3 separate regions of the Homo sapiens genome follow, and all the other regions are linked to region 1. The links come from fine-mapping of genetic effects on gene expression. A gene starts in region 1. Each other region holds a variant in brackets. All regions are shown on one strand. Distances are between the middles of the regions.

What was found.
Region 2: its variant is fine-mapped to the expression of PARP10 in whole blood (TOPMed, PIP above 0.99).
Region 3: its variant is fine-mapped to the expression of PARP10 in ovary (GTEx, PIP 0.98).

What each region holds. Positions count from the first base shown.
Region 1 is chr8:143,982,397-143,990,560 of GRCh38, forward strand. PARP10 (poly(ADP-ribose) polymerase family member 10) reads right to left here and starts at 4,064. Exons shown (of 11, transcript NM_032789.5): 1 at 3,962-4,064; 2 at 3,659-3,837; 3 at 3,325-3,579; 4 at 3,016-3,252; 5 at 2,148-2,932; 6 at 1,814-2,035; 7 at 1,612-1,708; 8 at 771-1,415; 9 at 536-669. The coding sequence starts at 3,963. It overlaps GRINA (glutamate ionotropic receptor NMDA type subunit associated protein 1), which reads left to right and starts at 7,660. Exons shown (of 7, transcript NM_001009184.2): 1 at 7,660-7,803. RefSeq lists enhancers at 3,727-4,166, 3,837-4,740 and silencers at 7,592-8,091, 8,112-8,164.
Region 2 is chr8:143,917,009-143,925,172 of GRCh38, forward strand. PLEC (plectin) reads right to left here. Exons shown (of 32, transcript NM_201384.3): 31 at 5,496-8,164; 32 at 1-5,387. Among named protein-coding and RNA genes, the nearest start is that of PLEC, 19 kb to the right of the region's middle. The variant G/A (reference allele first, on the strand shown) is at 4,763.
Region 3 is chr8:143,938,850-143,947,013 of GRCh38, forward strand. It overlaps PLEC (plectin), which reads right to left and starts at 748. Exons shown (of 32, transcript NM_201384.3): 1 at 501-748. The coding sequence starts at 612. MIR661 (microRNA 661) reads right to left here and starts at 6,430; the gene lies at 6,342-6,430. LOC124902040 (a long non-coding RNA gene) reads left to right here and starts at 5,015. Exons shown (of 2, transcript XR_007061144.1): 1 at 5,015-5,321; 2 at 6,717-8,164. RefSeq lists silencers at 365-464, 745-974, 3,222-3,311, 3,532-3,991, 5,062-5,331 and enhancers at 485-724, 1,135-1,194, 1,372-1,666, 4,212-4,461, 7,860-8,164. The variant C/A (reference allele first, on the strand shown) is at 4,217.

The DNA of each region.
Region 1 (8,164 bases):
CCGGGAGGCGGAGCTTGCCGTGAGCCGAGATCGTGCCACTGCACTCCAGCCCAGGAGACACAGCGAGATGCCGTCTCAAAAAAGAGAGTGCCCCGCGCAGTGTCATCAGCACAGTGACCGCAGCGAGCCCGGGCCTTTCTGTGGAGGCAGAAGAGCGCCCAGAACAGCACAAGGGACGCATCTGTGGAGCGAGTAATCCTCAAAATGACCACAAGATGGCATCACCGCCCCATGCTCCAAATAAGGAAACTGAGGCCTGGAGCTGGTCCCATAGTCCCTGCTGACCCAGCCACGAGTGGCAGAGTGGGGACCCTCACTCAGGCCTATCAGATCCCAAGGCCCCCACTCTGTTCCCTCCTGTTTCCCTACCCACTTTGGGAACGCCCTCTGGGCAGAGAACAGGGCTGGGAGCCTGTCAGCTCCTGGTCAGCTGACCTTGATGTAGGCGAGAGGGACAGGCCACAGACTTGGCAAGGCGCTAATGGTGCAAGAGCCCAGGACGCCATGAGGCCAGAGAGACAGGGCATGGACTCACACGAACGACGCGGATGCTGCTGCGGGCAGCGTCCAGGGTGTCGTAGAAGGCCCGCACCACCTCCTGGAACTCCCCGGTGTTCTCTGCCAGACGCTCCAGGTTGTTCCAGGGCCCCTTCAGCGTCTGCCCCGCCACTGATGCATGGGGAAAAGCGGGGGGTCAGAGCCATGCCTGGGGCACTAGCCCCTGCTAACCAGCCCACCCCACCGTCCCTCAGTCCAGGAGGTAGACTCACAGGTAGGGCCTGAAGCTGCCAAGGGAAAGGCCAAACTCTGATCCCAGGGGCCAGCCAGAAGTGCCACCAAGTGGCGGGCAGCACGGGCAGGGTGGGCCCCGAAGCCACGGAGGATGGTGCAGTCACCACGCAGGGCAACACTCACACCATGGCACCGCTCCAGGCGAGCACGCAGCTCTGCAGGCAGTGTGCGGCGCCAGGGCCCCACCGTCTCCTCCTGGACGTGGACCTCCAAGGCAGCCCTGAGCGCCCGGTCCAGCTCCTCCACATCCTGCTCAAAGGCCGAGTGCACCACCAGCTGGGCCTTGCCATCAGTCCCCCCATCTGGGGGCTCTTCTGCCTCCAACGGGGGCTGCTCCAGCAGGGAGAGGGTTAGGGCTTGCCGCAGGGCAGCAGCCTCCTCCTGCTCAGCCACCTGACCTTGAGGCTCCAGTGACCGGTGGAGGGCCAGCTGCAGAGCGGCCTCCTCCTCCAGCCACCTGGGTGCCACAGTGCTGGGGGCCACAGGCTCCTCCTCCTCATGCCCTGGGGTCACCTCCTCCTCTGGCTGCTCCTGAGGCCCTTCCTCCTCCAGCTCCCGAGGCAGCCAGTCCTCCCCGTCTAGGTCTAGGCCCTCCAGGGTGGCCAGCAGTTCTCGGACCTCCTCTGGGGGCAGGGAGAGGCCATTGGGTCAGGGGCTGGACCCAGGAGGAGTTGGAATGGATGAAAGATGGGGAGCAAGTTTTTAGGGTACAGGGTGGGCCTAAGATGGGTCAGTAGACAGATGGGAGCACAGAGCAGGGCAGGGGGTGAGGTCAAGTGAGGGCCACAGGATGTGCTGAGGGCTCCCAGGGAGCCCTACCCAGGCTCACGTCCTCCTGGTCACCACCTGTACTGTCTGGGGTCCACAGGGTGTGGGCGTTGCCAGGGAGCACTGGGAGGGCCTCGGTAGGGTCCACCTGTAGGGAGAGGATGTCAGGACCACTAGCCTCTGGGCAAGGGCAGAGGAGGCCTGGGGCAGAGGCGTGAGAAAGGGGAGGGCAGGGGTGGGACTCCATCTCTACCTCTTCAAGGCCTGTGTCCAACGTGGCTGTGGCCAGGCGCTCTGTCCCAAAGACACACTGGAACTGAGCCTCCAGCCCCTGGAGAAGGTGCTGCCCTTCTGGGCCCAGGAGAAACCTGGCGCTGCCCGGGTGCTCCAGGCACAACACATGGCAGCTAATGCTGCCCAGCAGGCTCCGCAGAAACTCCTCAGCCGCCTGGCAGGAAGCCTGGGCTCCACAGAGCTGCAGGGCCATTGCAGAGATGGAGTTTGCAGGTTTAGAGCACAGGAAAGGTACTTTGAGTCCCCAGTAGGAGGAGGGGGCTGAAGGTGAGGAGTCCTGAGGGGTCACTCACCCGAAAGCCAGTCATATCCGGTCCTTCAAGTGGCAAGAGAGCGACGTCTCCCAGGCCCGCAAGAAGGTCCTCATGGTAGAGCTGCAGGAAGCGCATCGCCCCTGGCTCCATCAATAGCACCATCTCCACCAGGCCCTCCTGCCCTGCCAGCTTCACACATCCTGGGCTCACAGGCCCTGCCTTCTCCAGAGACCCCATGGTGATCTCCATGGGACCCACCAGCCCCTCTTGCTCTGGTGAGTCCATGGCAATTTCCACCAGGCCCTCCTGCCCCAGCAACCCCTTAGAGGTCTCCACTGGGCCTGCAGACCCCACAGGCCCCAGGCTCATGGGCCCCTCCTGTTCCTGCAACCCCACAGGCCTCAGGCTTACCAGCCCCTCATGTTCCAGAGACCCCATGGGCATCGAGCTGACTTGCTCTGCCTGTCCCAGAGACCCCATGGGACCTGTCCTCAGAGAGGTCCCTGACTGCCCTGGTTCCTGGCCAGAGCCTGTTGTCATAATCCCTCTACCCTGCACCATGGGACCTGTCCTCAGAGAGGCCCCTGACTGCCCTGGTTCCTCGCCAGAGCCCATTGTCACAGTCCCTGCACCCTGCAGAGCCGTCACCAACCCTCCGGTCCTCAGGAGAGCATGCTTGGTAGCCCTAGGCCCCTGGGTGGACGGGTGGTCCCCTCCACTGGTGTTCTCAGCCAGCTCCTCGGGCTCCAGGATGTCGTAGTGGGGGACAAGGCTCAGCTCTGAGCCCTGCAACCGGTGCTCCTGCTGCAACACTCGTTCTGCCACTTGGAGGAAGGGAAAGGACAGAAAGCCTGTCAGATTTCTGCAGGAGAGGGACGGTCGGCTGGGTCTGCCCAGCCCCACTCACCTTGCCACTGCTGGAAGGAGGCAACAGTGCCCAGGGGCCCGGGTAGGCGTTGCAGGTCCTCCAGGGGCCCCCCACCACTGCGGCGCTCATTCTCCAGGTACAACTCCAGCAACAGCAGGTCCACAGAGGCACCATCCCCCACCACACGCACCGCTCGGGCCTGGGGAACCCGGGCCAGGGACACCAAGGTCCCCTCCAGGCCCAGATTCTGGGCCTGCTCCTCCAGGACACGGACATCTGTGGGGTATGTGCAGGTCAGCTCAGGGAATCCCCCCTAGCCAGCACCTCAACCCCAACCCTGCCTCTCACCTGCCTCAGAAAGGGGCTTGGGCAACTGGACCAGAGCCCGGTCTGGCCGGGGGCTGGCCAAGGCACAGCAAGGCTGTACTGGGAGCCCCGAGGCCCGCAGCAAGGCCTGGACATGCTGCTCCAAGCGCTGGGGCGTGGTGCCAGGGGGCAGTCCTTGGAGCAGCAGGCGTGCAGGGGCTCGTGGTGGAGCTGGCCGCAGGCTCAGCTGGGCACCATGTAGTTCGTGATCTGCCTGGGCCAAGACCCTCTCGGCGTCTGTGGGCAGGGGCGGGGCAGGATGTCAGGCATTAGAATATCAGGGCACCCAGGCTGTCCCTTCAGCCAGCCCTCTCACCTGCAGGCTCTCTGAAGGTGAGGACGCCCCCACAGCCCAGTCTCTGCCAGCTCAACACAGGTCCCCCTCCAGAGCGTCGGCGGTTTTCAAAGTAGAGAGTGAGCAGCTCGTCGGGCACGGCAGGGGGCAGTCCACGGACCTCCACTGCCACCCCTGCCTCTGCCTCCGCCATTGCAACCCTGGGACGGGGCATCAGGTGGGTAGGGAAACAGCCCATTCCACCCCTCCTGCCCCTCCCCAGGCCCCTCCAAGGTGTGTCCTCAATGCTCCCCCATTATGGGTGGCCCCACATACAGCACTTACATTCCCCGTGGCCGCTAGGCAGCCTCAGGCCATGAGCTCAGCCAGGACTCCTGTGCCTGCCCCTCAGCAAGCCTAACCCTGCTGGGAGCAGGAAAACAAAAGTGAAACTGAAAGACGGAAGGAGGGAGGGAGCAGCTGGGCCCTGGGCGCTGAGGCCTGGGTACTGGGGCTCAGATGCTTCCTCTCCTGCTGCAGCCTCAACCCCCAGCTGACCAGGAGGTATTGGCCAGGCTGGACCCCTCAGGACCCTCCAGCCAACCCAGCCCAGCCCACCGGCCCTACCTGGCCCACTCCAGCCCCTGGTTGGCAGGGTAGACAGGAGTGTCCCCTGGTGGCCCTCCACTCCCCTGGCCTCCATGGCCTGAAAATGGCCAATCACCCGCCCCACTAAACCCACCAAGGGGCCTGAGTCACTGCCCCTCACTCAGGATCTCCAAGCCTCTGTGTCCATGACACCCTCTGCACACAAAGTGCTGGGTCTCCAGGCCCGCCCCCGGCCAAGGCTGGCCTTCAACGCCCCCAGCAACCTTCTCAACCCTGCTCCTGGTCCCTCACACCTGCCAGGTGCTGAGCATGGGCGGTTCCCCACCCTTGGTCTCCAAGAATGTGCATTGCAGCACAGCCTTCCTCCCGCCTCAGGTCTTGCCTGCCCATTCCTGCAGCTTTCTGTCCTGCCTGCACCTCCCCATCTCACACCATCATTGGCATCGTCACAAGTAACCTCAGAAGGTGACAAGGTAATGGCTCCACTGCATTCCTTGCTGCCGCTAATCCTCACCACAGAAAGGGAAACGGAGGTGCAGACAGGCCCATAGCAGCACCAGGCCTCAAACCTGGGCGGTGCCTTCAGAGTCCACACTCCCACTCGCCACAGATCTCCCACATCACCCAAGCTCCGTTTGCTTCCAGCCTTTCAAAGAGCTGTGGCCACTACCACTCTCCATCTCCTACTTCCCACTCACCCCTCAGCCCACCAAAACCCAGCCCCACCCCTGCTGTTCCTCCCTCCAGGGAGCTGAGGACCCTGGCCAGCCTGCACTCCTAGCCCTGCACATGCCACACCTCTGCTGCCCCGACCCTGGTCCCAGCCTCCAGCATCTCTCGCTAGGTAGCTAGGCTAACCTCTTAACTAGTCTCTGTCTGCCACTCCCATGGTGGGTCCTCAACAGAGGTGTCAGGGTGAGCCTTGTAAAATGACACCAGCAGCTGCTACAGCTCCCAGCATCAGCAACAGTAGAAACCAAAGTCCTGGGGGCCGGGCGCAGTGGCTCATGCCTGTAATCCCAGCACTTTGGGAGACTGAGGCAGGTGGATCACGAGGTCAGGAGTTTGAGATCAGCCTGGCCAACATGGTAAAACCCTGTCTCTACTAAAAATATAAAAATTAGCCGGGCATGGTGGCAGGTGCCTATAATCTCAGCTACTCAGGAGGCTGAGTCAGGAGAATAGCTTGAACCTGGGAGGTGGAGGTTGCAGTGAGCTGAGATCGTGCCACTGCACTCCAACCAAGGTGATAGAGTGAGACTCTGTCTAAAAAAAAAACAAAAACCCAAAGTCCTTTTGAGGACCTGCCCCCTGCCCAGCTGCACCTGACCAGACCTCAGTCCCTTCTCTGGCCCCATGCCCCCTGCACACCCTGATGCTCAGAGGGCTCCAGGCTCTCAGCTCTTCCTGCAGAGCTACAGGCCACTCCTGCCTCAGTAGCCTGGGACTGGCCCTTCCCTCTGCTTGGCCCTACCTTCCCCACAAACCCCCATGGCCACCCCTCTGGCATGATCTCCCTTACTCTGCCTTTTTTTTTTTTTTTTCTGAGACGGAGTTTCGCCCTTTCACCCAGGCTGGAGTGAAGTGCCGTGATCTCGGCTCACTGCAACGTCCACCCACTGGGTTCAAGGGATTCTCCTGCCTAAGCCTCCCAAGTAGCTGGGATTACAGGCACGCACCACCATGCCCAGCTAATTTTTGTATTTTTAGCAGAGACAGGGTTTCACCCTATTGGGCAGACTGGTCTCAAACTCCTGACCTCAGATGATCCACCTGCCTCAGCCTCCCAAAGTGCTGGGATTACTGGTGCCAGCCACCATACCCAGCTATTTTATTTTTATTTACTTATTTATTTATTTTTTGAGACAGAGTCACACTCTGTTACGCAGGCTGGAGTGCGGTGGCACGATCTCAGCTCACTGTAACCTCTGCCTCCCAGGTTCAAGCCATTCTCCTGCCTCAGCCCCCCCAATAGCTGGGATTACAGGTGCACACCACCACGCCCAGCTAATTTTTTTTTGTATTTTTAGTAGAGACGGGGTTTCACCGTGTTAGCCAGGATGGTCTCCATCTCCTGACCTTGTGATCCACCCGCCTCGGCCTCCCAAAGTGCTGGGATTACAGGCGTAAGCCACCGCGCCCAGCAAGCATTTTATTTTTCTTAAAGGTCTCTCAAATTTTGTGAGCTTCTGCTTCTACAAAGGTAGAAGTTACCTTCTACAAGGGTAAATCCATCCCTGCTTTTTCCACGTTTTCTCTAATGGAACTCATCACAGGTTATCCATTACGCCGACCCTGGCTGCAGAGGGCCTGCCACAGGCACCACTCACACCACAAGCAGACTGGTACAGTTTCGGGAATTTCTGTGGACTGGTTGTCCAGCTGGGGGTAACTTGAAACCAGCCCCGGTGGAGTATTCACACCACGCGCATGTGCAAAACACGCACCCCAGGCTTCCCCTCACTAGGTCCGGCTGCTAAACACTGCGCCAGCGCACCATAGGTGCAGGACTCAGAGCGGCCTGGGAGAGGCCGGCCCTCCAAGGGCGGGAGGGCAGGTGGGGTCTGGGCCCCGGGTGGGAAGGCTGGCAGCAGGATGTACCCTGCCTGTGTCAGTCACTGCTCCCCCAAGAGGACTTGGGAGCTAAGCAGGGAGGTGGCCTGGCCTCCAGTCCTGCTGCATCCCCAAGCCTCAGCCCCTCGCAGCTTGTGAGGACGTTAGGCAGACAAGCGAGCGTTCAGGGTCTCTAGTGTGAAAACAAGACATCGTATTTGTTAGTACAAAGGGTGACTGTGGTCAAGAATAATTGTACATTTTAAAACAACTCCAAGAGTATAACTGGATTGTTTGTAACACGAAGGACAAAATGCCTGAGCTGATGGATACCCCATTTACCTTGATGTGATTATTATCCATGGCATGCCTGTATCAAAACATCCCATGTAGCCCGTAAATATACACCTACTATGTATCCACAAGAATTAAAAAAATAAAAAAGGGTCTCTAGTAGCAGGCCTGGCAGAGTTTGGGCTGACAGAGCAAATGGGGCAATTAAACCACGAGGCCTCGATTTGGGAACTAAAGGATTAGGCTTCTTGATTTGGGAGAGATCTGGATGAAAAGAAGTGAACGTCGGGTTTTAAGGCCGAGAACGGACGGTCAGTCCCGGGCAGCTTCAGCAAATCCCGCATTTAGGAATAAATTTCTTAACTACCGAACGGCCAGTCAAATTGGCCAGACCAGACTTCTGCCTCCAGGGGTCTTCAGCGCCCACCGCCCGACCCCACCCCTCGGCAGACAGTGAGAGGCGGGCCTCTGGCCGGAGCGAAGAGGAACACGCAAGGCGGCGCAGCGGGAGGGGTCCGCGGAAGCCCCGCCCACCTGCCCCTCCCACCCCGAAGCTCGCCCGGCCCCGCCCCCTGCCCCGCCCCGTCACAAGGCCCCGCTGCGTCTTCCGAGCCGCAGGCGCAGGCCCAGCTGAGCGGCCGCCGAGCGGGTGCGGGTGCGGGCGCATCGGCCATCACCGCGCGGCCGCGCAGCGGACACCGTGCGTACCGGCCTGCGGCGCCCGGCCACCGGTGAGTCCCCGGCCCGAGCCCAGGAGCGCCTCTGACCCGCTGCGCCGCGCGGCCTGCCGCCCCCGCCCCCGCCCCCACGCGGATCTTGCGCATCCGAGCGTGGCCGCCTCGGGTCAGTAAGTTGGTCCGGCCGGGGCGCGCGGCAGCTCGCGGCCAGAGGTGGCGGCGGTGGTGGGGGCGGGGAGCCGCGGCGGCCTGGAGCCGGAGGGAGGGGGCGGCGCGCTGCGGCGACTGCTGGACCCGTGACCCTGTGCGCCCCCGGCCCGCGGAGGGCCCATCCGCTCTCGGTGCCAGTGCCACGGCCGCAGCCCCTACCCGCCTCGCCCCACGCCCGCTTTGTTCCCCGCACGCCCCGTGGTCG
Region 2 (8,164 bases), 65 kb before region 1:
GACCAGGAGGCCAGCTGGGTCCTGGAGACGGCGGGGCTGATGGGGTAGGAGGAGGAGGATCCCACCGAGGAGGAACGGGAGCGGAAACCACCGGCGTTGCCCGAGAGCATGTCGGCGAACTCGGTGATGGAGAGCGTGCCGGCGCGGTACTGGTCCAGTGCCGAGCGGTCGATGAGGTTCTTGGCGATGGCATCATCGATGTCGTACTGGCGCCCGGAGCGGCGGTCGATGATCATGGACTTGACCACGCCGTCCGAGGAGGAGATGGTGATCTCCTCCCACTCGCACTCCTGCTCGGACAGCTCCAGGTACGTCTGGTGGTCAATCAGGCCCTTGCGGTAGGCCTCGTACACTGACATCTCCTTGCCCGTCTCGGGGTCCACGATGACCACTCGGCGCTTGCGCACGGAGGACTTGGAGGACGTCTTCCGCTCCCGCTTCTTCTCCTTCAGCGGCAAGAGACACAGGCCCGTCTGGGGGTCAGTGATACAACGCTCCATCAGCTGCAGGTAGGTGAGGTTCTCCTCCGTGTTAGGGTCAAAGAAGCCCTTGGTGTCGTCCGAGGGGTCGGTCAGGATCTCGTTCATCTCCTCATCGAAGAGGCCGCGCTTGTAGGCCACCTCCACGGGCAGCCGGTGGCTCTCCTCAGGGTCGATGATGCCGCCCGTGGCGATCTGGGCCTCCAGCAGGCGGATGCCATGGTCCTTCAGGATCAGGCCCTTCTTCATGGCCTGGAAGAGGGAGATGAGCTTCCCAGAGTAGGGGTCCTTGTACCCAGTGACGGCGCGCTCGGCCGACAGCAGCTTGTCCTTGAACTCGGGGCCCACAATGCCCATACGCACAGCCTCCTCCACCGTCAGCTTCAGTCCCTTGATGGGGTCGATGACGTAACCGGTGGCCGCCTGCGCCTCCAGGAGCTCAAAGGCTGTGCCGGGGCGGATGATGCCCTTCTTCATGGCCTGGTACACCGAGAGCCGTTCCTTGGTGGCGTCCACGAAGACACCAGCGATGCAGCTGGTGCCTTCCAGGAACTTCTGCAAGTTCTTGGTGACCTCCTCGATGGAGGTCAGGCCCTCCCGCAGCTGCAGCGCCGTGGCCTCGTCCATGACCTGCGAGCGCACCAGCTCCTCCATGGTGATCTGCTTCCGCAGGCCACGGAAGGTCAGCTTGCGGGCGTCCGACAGTGGCAGGAGCAGCTGGCCGGTGCCGTCGTCACGACGGCACCGCCTGAGCAGCTGCGTGTAGCTGAGGCGCTCGTCGGTGGACGGGTCCACGTAGCTGCGCACCTCGCTGGGCTCTGACAGCTGGTCGTGCGTGTCCTTGTTGAGGTAGCCACGCTGGTAAGCCACCTCCAGGGGAAGGTGGAAGCCCAGGCGGGGGTCCACGATGCCGCCGGTGGCCAGCTGGGCATCCAGCAGCCGCAGGGCCTCCTCAGTAGGGATCAGCTCCTTCTTCATGGCCTGGAAGAGCGAGATGGTCTGCTCGGTGTAGGGGTCACGGTAGCCGGTGACCGCCCGCTCAGCCGAGAGCAGGCGGTCGTGCAGCTCGGGCCCCACGAGGCCCTTCCGCACAGCCTCATCCACAGTCAGCCGCTCCCCCTTCACCGGGTCCAGCAGGAAGCCTGTGGCTGCCTGTGCCTCCAGCAGCAGGCGGGCCACCTCGGCACTCAGCAGCCCTTTCTTGAGAGCCTGGTAGATGCTCAGTGTCTGCCTGGAACCGGGCAGGTAGACACCAGCCACGGAGCCCGTGCCATAGAGGTAGCACCAGGCGGACTCCGCCTCGAGAGCCTCACGGAGGCTCCTGGTGCCCTCCCGGAGCAGGTTGTAGGTCTCGAGAGAGATGATCCGAGCCTCGAACAGGTCCTCAGCCGTGAGGCGGCGGCGCACGTAGTCGTAGGAGGCCAGACCCTGCTGGCGGATGATCTCTGTCTTCTCAATGATCTCGATGATGATGATGATCATGCGTTCCTTGGTCACCCGGCCGGCCTGGAAGTCAGCCATCAGCTGGGCCCGCTGCTCCTCGGGGATCAGGTCCGACTGCATCACCTCCCACAGGGACATGGTGGAGCCGCCGTGGCTGCCGCCGCCGGGAATGTCGATCTGTGTCTCTTCAAATGCCCTTCTTGTCTCCTCCTCAGTGTACACCTGCGTGGTCTCCACCACCTCAGCCTTCTCCGCCCCTTTCAGTGGCAGAAGGCGCAAGCCCGTCTCGGGGTCCTCCACGCACCGCTCCAGCAGCTGCCTGTACGTGAGGTTCTCATGCGTGTTGGGGTCAAAGAAGCCCTTGGTGTCGTCGCTGGGGTCCGCCAGGACGCGGTTCATCTCCTCACTGAAGTAGCCGCGCTGGTAGGCCACGTCCACAGGCACGCGGTGGCTGTGCACGGGGTCGATGATGCCGCCCGTGGCGATCTGGGCCTCCAGCAGGCGGATGCCGTGCTGCCGGAGAACCAGGCCCTTCTGCATGGCCTGGAAGAGGGAGATGGTGCTGCCCGAGTAGGGGTCTCTGTAGCCGGTGACGGCCTTCTCGGCAGACAGCAGCTGCTCGTGAAGCTCGGGGCCCACCACGCCCGCCTTCACGGCCTCGTGGACATACAGGCGCTGGTTCCGCACGGGGTCCACCAGGAAGCCAGTGGCCGCCTGCGCCTCCAGCAGGAGCGCAGCCGTTGTGGCTCTCAGCAGGCCCCGGCGCATGGCCTCGTAGATGGACACCTTCTCCTTGGTGTCCTCCAGGTAGATGCCGGCGAGGCAGCCACTGCCCTGCAGCAGCGTCCGCACGGAGCCCAGCTCCGAAAGGTCCTTGACCGTCGTCTTGCCGTCCTTGAGCTGCTCAAACTGGGCTCTGCTGAGGACCCCGGAAGCCAGGAGCTCGCTGGCTGGCACAGGGGCACGGAGGCCGCTGAAGGACAGCCTCTCCTGCCGCAGGGTCTCCACCTCCTCCACGATGGTAATGAGAATCTTGATGACCTTCTCCACGGTGACCTTGCCCGTGCGGAACTGACGCAACAGCTCCTGCCGCTGCTCCGCAGTGAAGTACTCAGAGCTGATGAGCTCCCACACCGTCACCGTCCTGCCCTTGAAGCCACCCACGGGGACCTCAACCGGGGTCTTTTCAAAGGTCTCACGGGCCTGCAGCTCTGAGTAGAGCTCCTCCTGCCGGGCCCGAGCAGCCTTTTCTGAGAGCGGCAGCAGGCTCAGCCCGGTCAGCTGGTCGGGCCGGCACCGCTGCTGGAGCTCGCCGTAGGTGGCCGGCTCCCCTGTGCTGGGGTCACTGTAGGCCTTGGCGTCGGCCCTTGGTGCCGACAGGGCCCTGCTGGTCTCCTCATCCAGGCAGCCTCGGGCGCAGGCGACATCCAGGGGCACGCGGTGGCTCTTGCTGGGGTCCACGATGCCGCCCGTGGACAGCTGGGCGTCCAACAGGCGCAGGCCCTGCTCCCGGGGAATGAGGCCCTTCTTCAGGGCCTGGAACAGGGAGACGCTCTGCCCTGTGTAGGGGTCCCTGTACCCTGTCACAGCCTTCTCGGCTGATAGCAGCTTCTCATGAAACTCGGGGCCCACCAGGCCAGCACGCACTGCCTCGTCCACGGTCAGCCGGGCGCTGGTGGCGGGGTCGATGATGTGCCCGGTGCCGGCCTGGGCTTCCAACAGGGCCACGGCCATGTCGGATGGCAGCAGGTCTTTCTTCAGGGCATTGTAGATACTCAGCTTCTGCCCCGCCTCCTCCAGCCATACACCCGCGATGACGTTGGCACCCCGGAGAGCCCGCCGCACAGTGTCCACCTCGGCTACGTCTCGCACAGAGCGCTCACCTCGCTGCAGCTGCTGGTAGAGCTCGCGGTCGATGACCCTGCTCTCCAGCAGCTCGGCGGCTGGCACCAGGCTGCGCAGGCCCTCAAAGCAAAGCCGGCCCTTCTGCTCCTGCTCCTCCACCACCGTGATGATGATCTTGATGATCTTCTCCACTGTGATCCGGCCCGTGCGGAACTGCCGCAGCAGGTCCCGCCGCTGCTCTGCCGTGAAGTATTCCGAGTTGATGATCTCCCAAATGGTCACCGTCTTGCCCTGGAACTTGCCGAACGGCGCAGACACGGTGGCCTTCTCAAAGACGTCCCGGGCCTCGGAGTCAGTGTAGACCAGCTCCCCGCCCTTGGCAGCCTTATCCGTGAGTGGCAGAAGGCACAGGCCCGTCTCGGGGTCCTCCACGCAGCGCTCCAGTAGCTGCAGGTACGTGAGGTTCTCGTGCGTGTTGGGGTCAAAGAAGCCCTTGGTGTCGTCGCTGGGGTCCGCCAGGACGCGGTTCATCTCCTCGTCGAAGTAGCCGCGCCGGTAGGCCACGTCCACGGGCACGCGGTGGCTGTGCACGGGGTCGATAACGCCGCCCGTGGCGATCTGGGCCTCCAGCAGGCGGATGCCGTGCTCCCGGACGATGAGGCCCTTCTGCATGGCTTGGAAGAGAGAGATCTGCTGGCCAGTGTAGGGGTCCTTGTAGCCAGTGACGGCGCGCTCGGCCGACAGCAGCTTGTGGTGCAGCTCGGGGCCCACCACACCCTCCTTCACAGCCTCGTTGACGGTCAGCCGCCGGTTCCGCACAGGGTCCAGCAGGAAGCCTGAGGCCGCCTGCGCCTCCAGCAGGATGAGGGCCGTGCCGGGACTCAGCAGCTGCCTCTGCAGGGCGGCGTAAACACTCAGCTTCTCATTGGTGGCCTTCAGCAACAGCCCTGCGATACTGCTGCGGCCCTGCAGGTAGTGGCGCACGTCTTCCCGCC[G/A]TGCGAGCTCGTCCACCGTGGTGTGGCCCTGCGCCAACCGCTGCAGCTCCTCCGCACTCAGGATGCCGGCCTCCTGCAGCCTCTGAGCTGACACCTTCCGCCGCAGGCCATCGAAGCTGTGCTCCGGCTCTGCCTCTGCCGCGGGGCCATCAAGTGCATCCCGGCCATTGGGCAGGGTCTTTGTGGCAGCCACCTGCGAGGCAGTGACCTCCTCTGAGTGCGCCAGCGCGGCCCGGTGCTGCTCCTCCAGGAGCTGCAGCTGCTCACGCAGCCTCTGGTTCTCCTCAGCCAGCAGCTCCTCCTGCTGCCGCCGCTGCTGCTCCAGCTGCTGCAGCTCCTCCTGCTTGCGCCGCACGCCCTCCTCGGCCTCATGCTGCCGCCGCCGCGCCTCCTCCATGCTGGCCACCAGCCGCTGCCGTTCCTGCTCCATCTGCTGCTGCTGCCGCTGCTGCTCCTCACGCAGCTGCTGTGCCTTGGCCACCTCGTCCTGGAAGAGCTGCTCCAGCTTGGCCTTCTCCTGCTCGATGAAGCGCTCCCGCTGTAGCAGGCTGTCCTTTTCAGAGAGGAAGCTTTGCTGCAGGGCCTGCGTCTCCTGCAGCAGCTGCTCCTGCTGCACCGTCTGCATCTGCAGAAGAAGAGGGTGTGATCAGGGACCGCCAGCCCAGGAGCACCCATCACCCACCAAAGCAGATCCCCGGGCCCACCCGCCCGTCGCACGTAGAGGGGGCGGTACCTCCTCAGACTTGAGCTGCAGCAGTTTGGCCTCCTGTTGGAGCTTCTCCTTCTCACGCTCCAGCTCAGCGATGGCCTCCCGCAGGCGCTCGGCATCATGGTCACTCTGCTGTCGCTGGATCTCCAGTGTCTGCACCAGGGTCACCTTCTCCTGGGTGGCGAGCTCCGTGCGGTGCAGCTTCTCACCGATCTCCTCCGCCTGCTTCCGGAAGCGCTGGGCGTCCTCCTCAGCGCGGGCCTGGGCTCGGCTCATCTCGGCCACACGCAGCTTGAGGCGCTCAGCCTCAGCGCTCATCTCCAGCTGCCGCTGCCGCTCGGCCTCCAGCGTCCGCTGGAAGCCCTGCGTCTCCTCCGCCAGCTGCTGCGCCATCTGCTCCTTGTCCTCCTGCAGCCGCCGCGCCTGCTCCTGCGCAAGCTCCTTCTGCTGCTGCAGCAGTTCCGCCTCAGCCTTGAGTCGCGTGGCCTCCTGCACCGCCTGCATCTTCTCCTTGAGCATCTTCTCTGCCAAGGCCCGCTGCTGTGCCAGGTCCTCCTCTGCCAGCTGCCGCAGTCGCGCAGCCTCTTGGGCCGCCACACTCAGCCGCGCGGCCTCCTCCGCCACCTGCTTCATCTTCTCAGCCTCCTCCTGCAGGAAGCGCTGCGTATTGTCCTTGTCACGCAAGATGAGTGCGCGGTTCTCAGCCTCGATGCGTGCCTTGAGCTTGCTCAGCTCCTCCATCTGCACGCGCACCGAGAAGAGCTCCTCCTCCACCTGGCTGCGCTGGCGTGCGGCCTCCGTGGCCTCCGCCTTCAGCCGCTGCAGCTCCTCGTCCAGCAGGTTCTTCTGGTGGTCGGTCTCCTCCAGCTGCAGCCGCAGTGTTGTCAGCTCCTGCTCCACCTGCGCCTTCTGCCGCAGCGTCTGCTCGGCGAATTTCTTATGCTTCTCCATCTCCGCGTCAGCTGCCTGCTTCTGCCGCAGGGCCGCCTGCTCCGCCTGTGCCCGCCGCGCCGCCTCTTGCTCGGCCTCCTTGCGCAGCTTCTCTGCAGCCGCCTGTGCCTGAGCCCGGGCCTGTGCCTGCTCCTCTGCCGACTGCTTCAGCCGCTCGGCCTCTTCCACCTGCCGCCGGGACTGCGCCGCCTCACGCTCCGCCTGCACCCGGGCCTCCTCCGCCTCCTCAGCCGCCCGCCGGGCCGCCTCCGCCTCGCCGCGCAGCTGGTCCAGCACGCTCTGCTCCTGCTGCAGCGTCTGCTGTAGCTCCTGCTCCTTCTGCTGCACCGCGAAGGCGTGTGCCTTCTCTTCCGCCTGCAGCCGCTTCTGGGCGGCCTCCTGGGCCAGCTGCAGCTGCCGCGCCGACTCCTGCTCCGCTCGCTCCCGCAGGCGCCGCGCCTCCTCCACCTTGGCTTTCAGCCGCTCGACTTCCTCCAGCGCCGCCTTCCGCTGCCGTGCGGCCTCCTCCTCGGCCGCCAGGCTCTTCTGCACGCGCTCCTCAGCCTCACGGCGCCGCCGCTCCTCCTCCGCCGCCAGCTGCCGCTGCCTCGCAGCCTCCAGCTCGGCCTGCTCCTTGCTGCGCAGCGTGTCCTCCGCGTTGCTGCGGATGCGTCCCAGCTCCAGCTCCAGCTCCGCCTTGCCAGCGGCCGCCTTCTCGAAGCTCGCCTTCAGCGCCAGGATCTCCTCCTCCACCTGCCGCCGCTGCCTCAGCGTGTCCTCCACCAGCCCCTTCTGCCGCTCCAGCTCGCTGTCCGATGCCTTGCGCAGCTGGGCCAGGCGCTCCTCGATGTCAGCCTTGTGTTGCGCGGCCTGCTCCTCCAGCCGCCGCCGCTGGAAGGCCTCGTCCTCCGCCAGCCGCCGCAGGCGCTCGTTCTCCGCCTCCTTCTCCTTGAGCGCGATCTCCGCCTCCGTCTTGAGCCGCGTGGCCTCGCCGATGGCGGCCAGCTTCTCCGCAAGCACCCGCTCCGCCTCGGCCCGCTGCCGCGCCGCGTCTTCCTCGGCCAGCTGCCGCTGCCGCTTGGCCTCTTCCGCCAGGGCACGCAGGCGGGCGGCCTCCTCGGCCAGCTCGCGGAACCGGCCGGCCTCGGCCTCCAGCCTCTGCTTGGACTTCTCGCTGGTGGAGCGCGACTCCTCCTCAGCCCTCGCCTTGCTGGCCAGCAGCACCTCCATCTCGGCCCGCACCTTGGCCAGCTCGGCTTCCAGCTCCTGCCGTTTCTGCGTGGCTGCAGCCGCCTCACGCTGCAGCCGGGCCAGCTCCTCCTCCAGCAGCTGCCGCTGCTGCTCCCCCTGCTCCGTCTCGGCCCGCAGCCGGATCAACTCCTGCTCCGCGGCCAGGCGCTGCTGCGCGGTGCCTTCCGCCAGCTGCCGCTGCTTCTCCAGCTCTTGTTCAGCCAGCTCCCGCTGCCGGACGGCCTGCTCCTCCGCCTTGCCGCGCCGCCGCGCCTCGCGCTCCGCCTCCTCCTTCTGCTTCTCAGCCTCGGCCTGCGCCAGGCTCTTCTGCTGCGCCACCTCCTCCGCCTGCAGCCGCAGCCGTAGCGCCTCGTTGGCCTTGAGCTGCCAGCGCTCCAGCTCCCGCTCTGCCTCCTCGCGCGCCCGCTCGGCCTCGGCCTGCTGCTGTGCCCGCCGCTCAGCCTCCTCCCGCAGCTGTGCCACAGCCACGTGTTCCTCCTGCAGGGAGCGCTCCAGCTGTGCCGTCTTCTCGG
Region 3 (8,164 bases), 44 kb before region 1:
CGCAGCCCAGCCACACAGCAGAGACCCAGGTGCCAGGGGCCCAGGCGCCACCAGGTGCAGCCACCCCACCCCGGACTCTTCCCCCGAGGAAATGGGAGGGTCCTGGGCGCACCCTGAGCCCAGGGCACACAAGTCCCGTCCTGCAGTCCCCCCCGGCCTCTACAGACTGAGACCCAAGCAGGGGTGTGGCAGAGCCAGGGCCCGGGCCCGCTGGGGTGTTGGAAGGGAAGCCGCGTGTGCTGCTGACAGGGCAGCGAACCTTCCCCAGAGCGCAGAGTTCCTCGCCCTTCCAGGCCCGACATCTGACGCTCGGAGGCCCCCGTCAGCCTCGCGGGCGCCTGTCGGCCCACTCCGTGTTGGGTGGGGATGGCTGGCCCCCGACCCCCATCTCCAAGACCAGCCCCCCAGCGGTGCCAAGGCTTTCCTGCCACAGGAAGTGGGCCTTCCTCCCGCAGGGGCCCGCCCTGCCTGGCGGGGGTGCCCGAGGGGAGCCCTGCTACCTTTCTTGCCCTCAGAGGCCCTGAGCACAGCCAGGTACAGGTTGTCCTCCGAGCTGGTTCTCTTTCGGCCCAGGCCCTCGGGCTGCGGCACGCGGAGCTGGTGCTGAGACATGCTGCCCCCACACCTTCGTCGCCCGGACCCTCGGCCTCAGGCACGGTGCTCTGGGCAGCCCCGTGTGGCACACAGGCAGCTGAAGGCTGGCGGCCCCACGAGACGCTCACTCGGCACAGGCTCAGCTCAGAGCCCCAGTCGGTGCGGCCACTCCCTGCCTGCTGTACTCCCCGGCGAGGCCGGCCCGCCCCCGAGGCCCCACCCTGCCCAGGCCGCCGCCAGGGAGGGGAGTGTCCCGGCGGGAAGGAGCAAGCAGCCCCCTCCCCCACAGACACGCCCTCGGCCCGCCAGAAACAGGAAACCGGGGTTTCCTCACCCACCCCGACCACTGCAGCCCCCTAGGGGGACCTGGGGACACGGGGAGCTGGCACTTCACTGCACACCAAATGGTGCCAGGACCGCAGAGGAACACAGGCCGTCCCCACAGCCACCCAGAAGGACCCCCCAACAGACTGAAGGGCTCCCCCGACGGGAGGGGCTCTGAGGCCACGCCTCTCTTTGGAGCTCCCTCCAGGCCTGGGCCAGGCCCTGCTTCAGCCTCTGCCCACCCACCCTGCCAGGGCGGACTCAAGAAGCCGCTGATACCTGGCGAGGGGAGGGGACCTGCTGCCTGTCAGCTCTTGCAGCCCCCCAATCACACCTCTTCACAGACCTGCATGAAGCGGGGAGCACACCCTGCCCCATGGTGCCTGCCCTGGCCCTGGGGCCAGTGGGGTCCCACCCCAGGCCTGGCCCCTCCCAAGCTGCCCACCTGGCACATCCTGGAGCAGTGCCCACCTGCGGAGCCCACCCTGCCCCAGGCAGACACCTCACGTCGGAGGCGCGTAGCTGAGGGCTGACTCACGGAGGCCGGGCCTCATGGGGGAATGGAGCATCGGGAAGCCCCAGGAGGGGCCTCGCCAGTGAGTCAGGGATGGGGAGGGGGCCCAAGCCTGTGACTCACAGAGGGGAAGCCACACCTGAGGCAGGACCTGGGCGACCCCAGGGGTGGGGGGTGCTGTTTGCAGCTGGGTGGGGCTCAAGGGAAGCAGTCTCATGCTGTAAAGGGCAAAGGGCAAAGGGCCTGCGCTGGCTGGGGCCTCCGGCTCCCTGGGGTCCGGGGCGGAGCTGCCTCTGGCCAGCTTCTGGGCCTGCCCAGCCCACCCGACCACCATAGGAAAGAATGCGCTGCCCCAACCACAAGAATGTTCCAGCCGCACATCAGGCAGATTCGGTCCAGCTGGGAGCTGCACTCGGCCTCAGTTCTGGGAAGAGCTCACCCCACCTCATTCCTACTGCCCCTGAGGCCGTGAGGGGGCACCAGAACCCTCACAATGGGGGGTGCCCAAACCCCTCAGAGGTGGGGAAGCCCCCACTCCACGCCAAGGGGCACAGCCAGCCCCTAGGGCTCTGCCACATCGTACACGCCGCCCAACGAAGACACCCCTTGGTCTCCATGCATGGTCTCTGAGCCTGGCATGAGATTCAGGGTGACCCTCTTGCTCTGCCTGTCCGGCCCAGCAGCCTCCAGAACCTCAGGAGTCACCAGAAGCCCCCAAATCAAAATCTGACCCCGCACTGGTCAGCACCTCCAGTCTTGTGCCCAAGGGCACCCCGGACCCCACACCTCTGCCGCCCCTCCCTGGGTCCAAAGCCTCTGGAAACACTGTCGCCTCTTCAGAAGCCCTGGGCCAGCAGCTACCCTGAGGCCAAGCCCCGCGCCTGCTGGGTATGGGCTCTGGGGGCCCGGCCGTGACCAGGTGGCTCCTGCCTGCAGGAACGGGGCTGCCACTCTGCTGAGGCACAGTGTGAGATCCCGGAACAGCCAGGGAGGTGGGCACAGGGAGTCCACGACAGCTGGAAACTGGGAGCCGGGGCCAAGGTCCAGGACCCACGTGGAGCCCACCCCAGCCAGGCCCCTGTTCCAGCCTTCTCCCTGCCACTAACAGGCCTCCAAAGATGCCGCCCTGGGCCGGGCCAGGGTCAGGAATGGGGCAGGGGCTCAGGGAAGGGAAGGGGCACGGTGGGGACTCCAGACACGGACTCGGGCAAGGCTGGGACCGGGTGAGGAGAAGGGCTGGGGCGGGGCAGGGCTGGGACCAGGTGGGCTGGGGGCTCGGTCAGGGGCCTCCACCTCCCAAGCCTGGCTCAAGCTCCCCTTCCCTACTTCCTGCCTCTGGGTGCCTCTTTGCTCTGAGCTCTTCCCTCCTCATCACCTCCCCTCCCTCCCAGCCCAGCCTGCCCCGCCCCATCCAATCCTATTCTGACCCTAAAACCAACAGACACACCCGCCCCACCCAGCCAGGCTACACCCACCCTCTACAGCTGCAGCTCAGCTGGCTCTCCCACCTGGGACGCACCCAGAACACCCCCAGCTCAGGTGCCTCTGCACACCTGCCTGACACCTGTGCTGTCCAGGGCTGCTGACCCTCGGCCGCCAGCCCAGGGTCCCTCACGACAGGCACTGCCGTGGCCCTCTGAGGAGTATCGCCCCCGTTTTACAGGTGTGGACCCTATGGCTGAGGTCCCGCAGCTAGTGGAGACGGTCCTAGGATGGAAACCCCAAGACTGGGAAGGGAATCCCACTGGCCCAGGACTGCAGCAAGTCCACAGAAGGCCTGGAGCCCCGCCTTCAGCACCTCCTCCCTCCCCCGTGTCCTGGAAACCCAGGCCAAAGCCCAGGCTGACGTGGAACAGCCGGGGGTGGGCCAGCCCCGCCCCCTCCAGCCCCGCCCCCTCCAGCCCCTTCTCTAGAGACAAACAAATGGGGGTAGGGGAACATCACCCCGCCTTCCTCCCCAGGTGTTTCCGGAGCTCGGGGGCAAGGCTGCACCGGGCCAAGGCGCCACCCCCATCCCAGCCCAGGCGGCGGTTCCCAGCAGAGACCCAGCCCCACTAGGTGAGAGCGATGGTGGCCCCTTCTGTGCCACCGGCCACGCCACTGCACCCACCTACGCAGCACAGCTGCTGGTAGAGGTAGCCCCTGCGGGCCGGCTCGCAGCCCCCGTCCAGCCAGCACGGCCGCTCCAGCAAGACCTCCCTCGGCGAGGCAAAGGCGCCCCCCGCCCCCGACATGCCGGCCACGGCCGGAGCCCTGGTTCGGCCCACGGACAGTGCGGGGAGCTGGACCGCGGCGGCGCCTCTGCTTCCAGCCCACGCTGCGAGGCTGCCGGCTTCGCTCTCCACCTCTTCCACCTCCCCCCCACAATCCGCCCACTGCGGGAGCGAGGCCCAGACCCAAAGAACCTGCCCCTGGCGCGCAGCCCCGCCCAGCGCAGCCAGGAAGCCGCGCCCCAACCCACGGGCCGGGCTGGGAGGCTGCCCTGGGACTGAAGCGGCATGGGAGGGGGCCTCCCAGCAGGATGTGCGGTGGGGACTGCAGGGCCCAGGGAGGAAGGCAGGGCATGGGGCCAGGTGGTGGGCAGACAACGCTGGAGGCAGAACCGAGGAGCTGAGCCGCGTCTGGCACCACCAGGGAGTAGAGGCATCCTGTGAGCCAGGACCGTGGCCGAAGGGGGCAATTGTGGGCTGAGGTGGGGAGGCAGGGACAGTGTCTGGTCCCCAGCCAAAAACATGGATGGGGAAGAAGCCCTCAGCCCAAGTCCCATCCTGGCAGCTGAGTCCC[C/A]GGCAGCTCCGGGCGTCCCCAGCGCCACGCCTAGAAGCCCCATCTTGACTCATCTCAAGTCCGGGGATCCAGCAGAGGAGCTGAGCCAGGCAGCGCCCTCACTGCAGGAGAGGTCTGGCCAGCCAGGTCCCCGATAGGCAGTCCCTCTGGCCAGAAGCCCATAATTGAGGCTGCCCAATCCCCAGGGCCCCGCCCCATCCTGTGCTGGGCACGGTTGCCACCTGGGACCACAGCCCAGGAGCTGGTGACTTTGAGCAGGGAGGGCAGGGCACAGCCTGGCTGCCCCCGCCCCCTGTGCGGCCCGAGGGCATGAGGGCACCTGCCTCACCTGCGTGTGGCTCCACCCCCTGCTGTGTGTGCAGGGAGCCACCTCCACCTCAGTGCTGGCCGGACAGGCACCTGCCCACTTGTCCCTGCCACGGCGGCTGCCACAGGCCTCCCTTCGTGTGGGGGACGCTCCTGCCCTGCCGGCCTCCGCTTCCACCCACCTGTCCCGCACAGGCTGCAGGCTGAGGGCCACTGCAGAGCCCGCCCCGCCCTGGGACTGCAGCAGGGTCAGGGTCTACACTGCAGGGTGGGGTGGAGGGGCAACACTGCTTTCACTGACATTCAGCTTGGAAACAGGAAGGGGAGGGCGCAGGGAATGAAGGGGCGGGAGGCAGGCGGCCCCTCTGCCCCGCCTCGAGTCCCTGGCAGCCACCAGCGGGGCTTACCTTGCTCGTCCTGCGCCCACCGACGTCCCCTGCGCCAGTGCCACACAGCGGCCAGGGTGACAACGTGACCCACAACCACCAGGGAGGGAAACAGGCTGCCCGAGGGCTCCATAGCCGCCACGCGGAGCCGCCAGGGCTGCCCTTCCTGCGCTGGGAACCGGCTGCTCCAGGCTAGACAGCCCCCTCCCTGCGTGCAGGGCGAGCGAGGGGGAGCGCCGGGACCGGAGCCTGCCCTGCCCGCAGGACCGCCCCATACGCGGCGGCAGCCCCACAACAGCTCCCGCCCGCCTCCTCTCCTCCTCCCTCCGCGGGTCCGGCCCTCGGCGCCTCCCCACCCTCGCTCCCCACCCGGCCGGCTCAGCTGTCCCTGCGCAGGGCTACTGACGCTCAAGGTTAGTTGGCCTTAACCCCTGCGTCCCCGCGGCCACACCCGCCGGGAGGAGGGGCCAGCCGCACGCCTGGCCAAGCCGCAGCCCCCCAGCACTGCCCGCGGCCTCGGCACACACCCTCCCTCCCTCCCAGCCTCCCCCTGCTGTCCCCACCAGAAGAGGGGCCCGAGCAGCCCACTCTGCCTCCAAGGCTGCCCTCTGGGGACAGCTGGCAGGCATGGAGGGATGCCAGAGCCCCCACCTCAAGCCTGCAGCTGAACCCACTGCACTCCTTCAACTTCGCCCTCCTCACCAGCCCCAACACCCCAAAAGTGAGACTGCAGACCAGGGCTGAGGGGGTCTGGGTGAGGGCACATGAGGCAGGCTGTGTGCAGGGCGAGGGACAGCGCCCCTGGCCTCCAGCCTCAGCCCCAGCCCTCTGGCCCCTGTCCCCAGCAAGGGGCCAGGATTTCACAAGGCTTTCAAGGGCTGCCCACCTACCGGGCACGATCTTCATCGGGGACGGTGGCAGGAGCCCACGGGGCAGACGGAGCGGGCCAGGGGTGTGGGAGGTCACAGGCCCCTCGGAGGAGGCACAAGCCACTGGCGGCAGCGTCGGGTGGGAGGAGGGCACGGCCGTGCTGCTGTCAGCAGCAGCTTGTGGGGGAGGGGAGCAGTGGGCAGGGGCCCAGGGGATATAAATATCCGAGGAGGGCGCGCAAGGACCGTCACCACCCAGACTTGGAACATGACGCACGGCGCCAGGGCACCCAGGCCCCGCTGCAGTCAGGTCTGGCTGGACGGTGCCACCCGACACCTCGGTCCCCCAGCTCCCACAGGGGGTTCTAATATAATAGAGCAGGGCGCGGGAGGTGCGGGCTCACGTCCCTGCAGGAGGCGGTGCAGTCCCCACCCACCTGCCCTGCCAAGCCAGGGGGTGCTCTTGGAAAGGCCACAGGGGCCAAGAGAAGAGGCCGCCCATTCTCCCAGAGGGCCCTGCGCAGGTCACTCAACACAGCACCTGGCCCCACCGGTGGCCGGGACAGCCACCCCAAAGTCACGCGCAGGCCAGAGACCCAGGCAGCCCGAAACCAGGGCTCAGGCCTGCGCCTGCCCCACAGCACAGCCTCTCCTGGGGTCCCAGGGATCTGGGATGGAGACGCCTCTCCTGGGCCACGGCAGGAGACTGGCCTGGCTCCACCCAGGAGTCCCGAAGCCCTGCTCTGTGGAAGGCCTGGGTCAGAGAGCCGGGCCACAGGCAGGCCCACAGCATATCCTATGCAGATCAGATCCCAATGCAGCCGGGGAAACAGGACGTGGGACACGCACAGTCCTGCTCCTCTTCCTGGGACCCCTGTCTGCTGGGCGCACCCCTCAGGCCCAGGAGAATGCACGTTGACGGTATACCCCATTCCACAGCGTCGCTCCTGGCACCACATGGAACCCTCAGCAAACCCCATGAAGTCCTATACCATGAAGGCCTCATACAGACCAGGAGCCTGAGGCGCCGCCTGCTGTCCCGCACGCTGCCATCTGAGCCCAGGTGGCCTCCAGTGTAGTTACCTCAGCCCACAGCAAGGCACAGTGAACCAGCCTGGCCCCGGGCCACTGGGCAGGCCACCCAGGTCCATGCTGGGAAGCCCGCGGACAACAAGAGGGCCGGGCCCACCCCAGCCTCCTGCTCTCCAGCCCCACACCTCAAAAACGTGCGGCCGAGGGAAATGCCTGCAGTGGCCCACTCTGGGCGGCCAGGGGTCGGGCGGGCCCAGGCAGCCCTGAGGGTCAGGGATACCCAGGCATGCCAGAAAGGGCCCAACTCCCAGCTGAGCCCAGGACAGCATCTGGCCAGCAGTGGGCAGGGGCCGACAGGCCGGACGTTTCAGCCCACTCCCTGCCACGTGCTGGGGAAGCCTCAGAGGAGCCTGACTCAATGGCCTGGGTGAGAACCAGCTCCTGGCGGGAGGAGTGCCCCAGGCTGGCAGCGGGCAGTTCTTCTACCACTCCACGGAGGTCCGGACAGGCCTGTGCTTCCGGGACACACATCACACACACCCCTGGGGCAGCTCCGAGAGGGGGCTGTGCCTATCCCTGCATCCCAGGTCTGACGGCACAGAACGGTGGACAACGGGAAGAGACAGGTCTGCCAGAGGCGGCCCCGGCCCTCTCCTCTGCCTCCCACAGCCCCCAGCTCTGCCTGCCCTACCTTGGCCCAGCTGAATCAGCTCCTCCATGCTGTACCTGTCCATGGCTGCCACACAGGCCAGGCTGCTCCGAGAGCCGGCAGGGAGGAAGGCGAGGCAGGAAGGAGGGAAGGGGTGGGAGGCAGAGGGAGGGCCCACTCATGCCCTGGTAGCAGCGGCTCCTCCTCGCAGCCACCCCTTAGTCAGTAAGCAGAGATGAAGCCCAGCCGACTGACGGGTCAGACCAGCCCAGCAGACCTGCCTGGGGGTGCAGGGGACTGGCCTGCCTGCAATCCCAGAGAGCCCTCCGGCCCCAGCCCACGGGTCTTCCCTACTGTTCCTGCCCCGCCCAGCAGACCCCCCGCCCAGCAGACCCCACCCTGTAGCCTCCCCTTCCCGCTGCAGGCCCCACCAGCCCAGCCCTGCCCTCCCACCCTCCCACCCACATTCCAGGCATCCATGTGCCCAGCGGTATTTCAGGAGCCAGGCGGGAGCAGAGCCCCAAACTGCCCACCACACCCCACTCCTTGAGACTCACATTCCTCAGCCCCAAAGGTGGTCTCTTCCTCCACCTGAGTCCTCCCCAACCAGCACAGCCCCAGGCATCTGTCCAGGGGCAATGGTGACACCTGCCTCCCCTCTCCATACCTCTCCACCCAGGTGCTTGCTGACCAGTGAAGTGCAAAT